2 linked regions of the Homo sapiens genome follow. The protein of the gene in region 1 purifies or fractionates together with the protein of each later gene. This does not show direct contact. Each region holds a gene or a part of one and is shown on either strand. Other genes may lie near its edges.

Region 1 (3,151 bases):
ATTTAATTTAAAAAATAATAAAAATAAAAACAAAGAAACCCAATTCACTCTACATACTTTAGCATGTTTCTCCTGAGAATAATGACCTTATCTTACATAACTGTAGTACACTTATCCCACTCTAGAAGTTCTAAACTTTAGAAGTTTCTAATACTACTTTGAAATATAGGGCATATTAAAATTTCCTTCATTGTCCTGAAATGCATCCCCCATCTTTGATTCAGAATTATTTGAACTATGCACACAGCATTTAGTGTCTTAGTCAATTAATAAAACAGTCCTCTTTTTGTTTTTCAGATATTGAACCAGAAATCCATTTGTCCCATTATTGGTGATGCTAACTTGGGTCAAGGTGGCTTCTTCCAAGTCTCTACTGTAAAGGAATGTTTTTTTCTCCTTTGCAATTCATAATCTGTGCCTAGGGCTTCCAAACTTGTGACTATCTAGTTCCTCAACAGTCTTCATCTGATAGTTTTAGCTATTGATGATCATTTTCTAAATTAACTACACTGGTGGTTGCAAAAGAACCCATTGTGTGTGTGTGTGCGTGCGTGTGTGTGTGTGTGCGTGCGTGTGTGTGTGAAGAGGTCTGCCTTAAGAAACCCTCAATAATGGACAGCTGAGGGGACATTAGATGTTACCAGGACTGGAAATGCCAGCTTAATCACCATCTGTAAAGCCATAAAACAGTGAAATCACACTCTCATCGAGTGACTCCAGTGCATCGCTCCAAACACTATGTTTAAAAAACGAATAAACCAAATTTATTTACAGAGGAGCCAGAAGCCTGGACCGGTTTTGGCTGGAGTGCGCAGGCAGGGCACAGGTGAGCTTTATAATCCGGGTAGGTTCAAAGACTCTAGAGCCAGGGGCTTCGAAGAACGCTAATCCCTTTAGGTAAGATAATCAGTTTCCGAATTTCGGTTTTCTCTTTTGTTCAATGGCAAGAGTTCCTCCAGAGTTCCCGGGACGTTGTCCGGGTCGCCAGCAAAGTGGAGCCGCGGGTCCTGCTCCTTAAGGCCGAGGGGATACGGACCCTTCTTTGGAACGTGTGAGGCAGGAACTCGATTCGGCAGCTACTGGGTGGTCCTCGCACCCTCAAGCCTGGACGCCCGCTTTCCGAGGTTCAGGTCCCACCGGTTGTTCCCTAGAGGAAGAGGCAAGAGCACCTTGCCCCCAGCCATTCCCAAGCCCATGGGATTCTGGTGCGAAAGACACAGGTCAATGCAGGTGGAAACCCTAGTTAACTTGGAGACAGCTGGGCCCGGGTGAGGCTCTCCCGAAGTCGCGGGAAGCGGAAGAGTTGGCAACCTGCTGGACCGCAGCCAGGGCGGCGGGGCATGGACTCAGGGTCCTGGCCCGGGCCGGGGGCGGGGCCTGGCCGGGGGCGGGGCCACCAGGTGCGAGGCTTTATCGCCCCTGAGCCTCGGCCGGCGTGATTAGGCCTGGTTTGCGCTGGAGAGTGGTCTTGGTTGTGAGGGTCATAAGATGGGAACTCTCCCGGCACGTAGACATATCCCGCCGTGGGTGAAAGTTCCCGAAGACCTGAAAGATCCAGAGGTGTTCCAGGTCCAGACGCGGCTGCTGAAAGCCATTTTCGGTGAGTGTGCCCAGTACTGGCGGGCTGCCCCGGCTCGGGAGTCTCAGCCGGCCCGGGGATCTCATCTCTTTTCCCCAACAGGCCCGGACGGATCTCGAATCCCTTACATCGAGCAGGTGAGCAAGGCCATGCTCGAGCTGAAGGCTCTGGAGTCTTCAGACCTCACCGAGGTCGTGGTTTACGGCTCCTATTTGTACAAGCTCCGGACCAAGTGGATGCTCCAGTCCATGGCTGAGTGGCACCGCCAGCGCCAGGAGCGAGGTGAGAGGCCCAGAGACTGGGTACGCGGAACACAGGCTCGCGGGGGCCGCTTCGCGCCTCTCCTCCAGCCCTCTCCTCTTTCTCCTCTCTTGCTCGCTGCCAGCACCTTGGGCGTCACCAGGGGTGCCCTTGGCATCTGGGCCTTCCCAAGACCCCTTTGGGAATGGGGGCCCCAGAATGCCGGCCGTCGGTCTTGGAGACCCAGGGGTGAGACTATGGTGAAAGGCGGCTGGTGCTGGACCCACTGGGCAGGGTTATCTGAGCTATCTCAACCGTCTCCCCGCCCCCTTCAGTTTCTTGGAGAATGTTCGAATGGGCCGAGTAGTCTCGGGTTCCAAGGTTCTGGGCCTGACTCTCAGGCCCAGAACGCCTGGATCAGAAGTCCCAGAAACGAACCCTGAAAGAGGCGGAGAACAGTCCGGGCGCTTACTATTTTCCCCCAGACTCACGCCGCTGTTGCTATTTCTGGTGCAGGGATGCTCAAACTTGCCGAAGCCATGAATGCCCTCGAACTAGGCCCTTGGATGAAGTGAACCAGTTTCCAGCCAATGCAATGAAGCCGGGTTGCAGAGATTAGGTTGTGGCCAGAGCTAGAGTGATTCCTTAAGCTTGTTTTAAAATCTGCTCCAGCCTAAAGAGTTAAGGGAAAACCATTTGTTCCCTTAAAGAGTTAAGGGAAAACCCTTGGCTCTGAGTCTTGTTGTGAATATTTCTTTGATGATTGTTAATAAAAAGTGTTTTTTCTTTTTTCCCATTTTTAAAAATAACAATAAAGTTTTAAATAAGTTGATAGTTCAGTGTGGTTGATGGATTGTAGGTACTACCTTAAATATCTCTGAAGCACAGCTGAAGTGTGGCCCTGAGCTTAACCCTTAATTGAAATCCTCCAAAGACAAAATGAGGGTCCAAAGGCACACTTGGCTAGTGTCAAAAAGGGTGGAGGAGCCAGGGTCCTGAGATGCAGCACTGAACTAAAAACCTATGGGAGATGTGATGATTGTCTCAAGTGACCTGGACTCACTTGAAAACAACCCTATAATAGGTTGACATTTTGTATATAAGCTGAAAAGCAAATGTGTCCAACAAAAATATGGGAAGTCAGAACCATTGTTAGTGTAGCATGTTTTGTGTGTGTTTTTTGTTTGTTTTCTTTTCTTTTCTTTTTTTTTTTGGAGACGAGTTTTTCTCTTGTCACCCAGGCTGGAGTGCAATGGAGCGATCTTGGCTCACTGCAACCTCCTCGACCCCCCTCCCCCGCCCCCACCCCTTTCAAGCAATTCTCCTGCCTCA
Region 2 (4,018 bases), on another chromosome or scaffold:
CTGGTCTCGAACTCCTGACCTCAAATGATCCACCCACCTCGGCCTCCCAAAGTGCTGGGATTACAGGCGTGAGCTGCTGCGCCCAGCCGTGGCTGCACCATTTCACATCCCCTCCAGGGTTCAGGTTTCTGCACATCCTTATCAACACTTGTTGTTATCTTTTTTTTTTAAGCGCTAAATCATTCTGGAATTCTTTATTTGAAAAACAGCACTTTTTGACACCTATGCCATTTCCTTCTCTTATGGACAACTTTTTTCATAGTTTGATGTCCCTCTCTCTTTTTTTTCTCCATGAGCACTGCTGTCTACATTTTAGCATTTATTGACTATAATTTAATTCCTGCTTATGCATTGTTTTCTTGTGTTCTTAGATAAATTTATGTTTTTCTCTTTTTTTGTATAGATTATGAGCTGCTGCTTTTTTTTAACTTAACAAAATTGAGGTGAAATTTGCAGAACATAAAATTAGCCTTTTTTTTTTTTTTTTTTTTTTGAGATGGAGTTTTGCTCTTGTTGCCCAGGCTGGAGTGCAATGGCGCGATCTCGGCTCACAGCAACCTCCACCTCCCGGGTTCAAGTGATTCTCCTGCCTCAGCCTCTCAAGTAGCTGGGATTACAAGCATGTGCCATGCCTGGCTAATTTTGTATTTTTAGTAGAGACAGGGTTTCTCCATGTTGGTCAGGCTAGTCTCAAACTCATGACCTCAGGTGATCCGTCCACCTCGACCTCCCAAAGTGCTGGGATTACAGGTGTGAGCCACTGTGCCCAGCCAAAATTAGCCCTTTTATAAAATGTATAATTCAGTGTCATTTAGTGCATTCATAATGACATCTCTGTCTAGGTCCAAAACAATTTCATCACGAAAGAAAACTACTATTGAGCTGTCACTCCCTCTTCTTTCTTTTCCATTTAATGGCTGAGTAATATTCTGTTATATGTATAAACCACATTGGTTTATTCAATCACCTATTGATGAGCAATTGGGTTGTTTCTGCCTTTTAGCTGTTGTGAATAGTGCTGCTGTGAATATTGGTGTACAAGTATTTGAGTACCTGTTATCAGTTATTTTGGTATATACCTAGGAGTAAAATTACTGGGTTCTATGGTAATTTTGTTTAACTTTTTGAGCAACCACTTTTCCACAGCAGCTACACCATTTTAAAATTCCCACCAGCAATGTTTGAAGGGTGCAGTTTTTCTGTATCTTTGTCAACATTTGTTATTATCTGTTTTTGATTATAGTCATCCTAATGGGTGTGAAGTTTTGTTTTGCATTTCCCTAATGACTAATGGTGTTGAACATCTTTTCATGTGTTTGTTGGGGTTGTCTTATTGTTGAGGTTGTAAGAGTTCTTTTTTTTCTTTTTTTTTTTTTTTTTTTGAGATGGAGTCTCGCTCTGTTGCCCAGGTGGCCAGGCTGGTCTTGAACTCCTGACCTCAGGTGATCCGCCTGCCTTGGCCTCCCAAAGTGCTGGCATTATAGGCATGAGCCACCACACCCGGCCTTGTCTTTTTGCTTCCTTGTTAGTGTCCTTCAATACACAAAAGGTTTTACTTTTGGTTAAGGCTAATTTATCTTTTTTTTTCCTTTTATTGCTTTATGGTGTCATATCTAAGGCATTGACAAATCCAAAGCCGTGAAGATTTTTTTTTATTTTTTAATGTTTTTTCCCCTAATTATTTTATAGTTTTGGCTTGTATATTTAGGCTTTTGATCCATTTTGAGTACATCTTGGTATGGTATGAGGTAGGGGTTCATTTCATTTTTTTTGCACGTGCTTCTCCAGTTGACCTAGTACCATTTGTTGGAGAGACTGTTCTTTCCCCATTGAATAGTCTTGGCATTGTTGAAAATCAGTTGAGCAAAGATTTTGTTGTTGTTGTTGAGACAGGGTCTCACTCTGTCACCCAGGCTGGAGTGCAATGATGCAGTCTTGGGTCACTACAGCCTCCACCTCCTGAGTTCAAGCGATTCTTCTGCCTCATCCTCCCAAGTAGCTGAGACTACAGTCACCTGCCATCACGCCGGGCTATTTTTTTTGGTATTTTTTTTTAGTAGATACGGGGTTTTGCCATGTTGGCCAGGCTGGTCTTGAACTCCTGACCTCAGGTGATCCATCCACCTCGGCCTCCCAAAGTGCTGGGAATACAGGCATGAGCCACCATGCCTGGCCAGCCAAAGATTTATTATATGGGTTTATTTCTGGATTCTCAGTTCTATTCTGCTTTGATTACTGTAGCTTTGGAGTATATTTAAAATTTGAGAAGTGTAACTTTACCAGCATTGTTTTTCTTTTTCAAAATTGTTTTGGTTGTTTGGGGTCCCTTGTCATTCAATATGAATTTTATTTTATATTATTTTATTTTGAGAGGTAGTCTTACTCTGTCGCCCAGGCTGGAGTGCAGTGGCGTGATCTCGTTTCACTTGCAGCCTCTGCCTCCTGGGTTCAAGCGATCCAACCACCTCAGGCTGCAAGTAGCTGAGATTACAGGTGCCCACCACCATGCCTGGCTAATATTTGTTTTTTTAGTAGAGATGGGGTTTCACCACGTTGGCAAGATTGATCTCAAACTCCTAACCTCAGGTGATCTGCCCACCTTGGCCTCCCAAAATGCTGGGATTACAGGCGTGAGCCACTGTGTGGGCCCCGTATGAATTTTAGATTTGGCTTCTCCATTTCTGTAAACAAGACAGTTGGGATTTTGATGGGGATTGTGTTGCCTCTATAGGTTGCTTCAGGTTTTATTGGCATCTTAACCATTTTAAGTTAGAATTTTTGATGGGGAGGTTTTTTCTTTTAGCACTTTATCTTACTGCCTCTGGCTCCTATGGTTTCTTTTCTCTTTTCTTTCTTTGAAAACAAGTTTATTAAAGTAAAGGAATAAAAGAATGGCTACTCCATAGGCAGAGCTGCTGTGGCCCCTATGGTTTCTGATGAGAAGTCTGTTGTATCTGTTGTTAGTCTTACTGAGGATCCCTTGTTCATGACTCTTAGCTTCTCTCTTGCTGCTTTTAGCATTTGTCTTTGTCTTTCAACAGTTTGATTATAATTTATCTCAATGTGTGTATTTCTTTGTGTTTATCCTGCTTTGAGTTCATCGAGCTTCTTGGATGTGTAGATTCATATCACTTTTTCATGCTTTTATGGAAGAAGTGGGGATTTTCACAGACGATAATTCTGCCTTATCAGATATCTGAATCTCTCTCTTAGTGATCTAGAAAGCACTGGACCTATAGTTTTATAACCAAGAAAAAATTCCTTCCTAAGGACTGTTAGGTCTGCAGTATTTTAGAAAGTTTGGATTTTGGGTATTAAGTTCATATAAGAACACTCTTTTAAGCCAAGTGTGGTGGCCTGTGCCTGTAGTCCCTTTTACTTGGGAGACCTGGTGGCAAGGCTGCTTGAGCCCAGGAGGTTGAGGGCTGTAGTTCACTGTGATTGTGCTGTGAATAGCTGCTGCACTCCAGCCTAAGCAACATAGTGAGACCTGGTCTCTTAAGAACAAAAAACACCCCACATATTAACTACAAATTATGAAGTGGTTTAAACTTCATATTTATATTTTGTCATTAGGTAGAGGGTTTGAGCTATATGGTAGAAACATTGTAGTTTAGCTATTTTATTTTATTTTATTTTTGAGGCAGAGTTTCGCTCTCGTTGCCCAGGCTGGATTGCAATGGCGTGATCCTGGCTGACTGCAACTTCTGCCTCCTGAGTTCAAGTGATTCTACTGTCTCAGCTTCCCGAGTAGCTGGGATTACAGGCATGCGCCACCACGCCTGGCTAATTTTGTATTTTTAGTAGAGACAAGGTTTCTCCATGTTAGTCAGTCTGGTCTCAACCTCAGGTGATCTGCCCGCCTCACCCTCCCAAAGTGCTGGGATTACAGGCATGAGCCACTGGGCCCGGCGTAGTTTAGCTGTTTTAAATACCATAAGATTAACATTTCTAAGGACACTCTTAGAAATATTTTATTTAAATAAGTGAAGCAAATATATAAGGAAACCTTCTGTAA

Evidence for each region.
Region 2: the proteins of DPPA5 (region 1) and DNM1L purify together in Homo sapiens (affinity purification with mass spectrometry; one large-scale study listed by BioGRID and IntAct). This does not show direct contact.

What each region holds. Positions count from the first base shown.
Region 1 is NC_000006.12:73,352,563-73,355,713, reverse strand, and holds DPPA5 (developmental pluripotency-associated 5 protein), read left to right. Parts: upstream 1-1,437; 5' UTR 1,438-1,488; coding exon 1,489-1,600; intron 1,601-1,681; coding exon 1,682-1,861; intron 1,862-2,335; coding exon 2,336-2,394; 3' UTR 2,395-2,651; downstream 2,652-3,151.
Region 2 is NC_000012.12:32,685,575-32,689,592, forward strand, and holds part of DNM1L (dynamin-1-like protein), read left to right. Parts: intron 1-4,018. UniProt on the Homo sapiens protein: Functions in mitochondrial and peroxisomal division.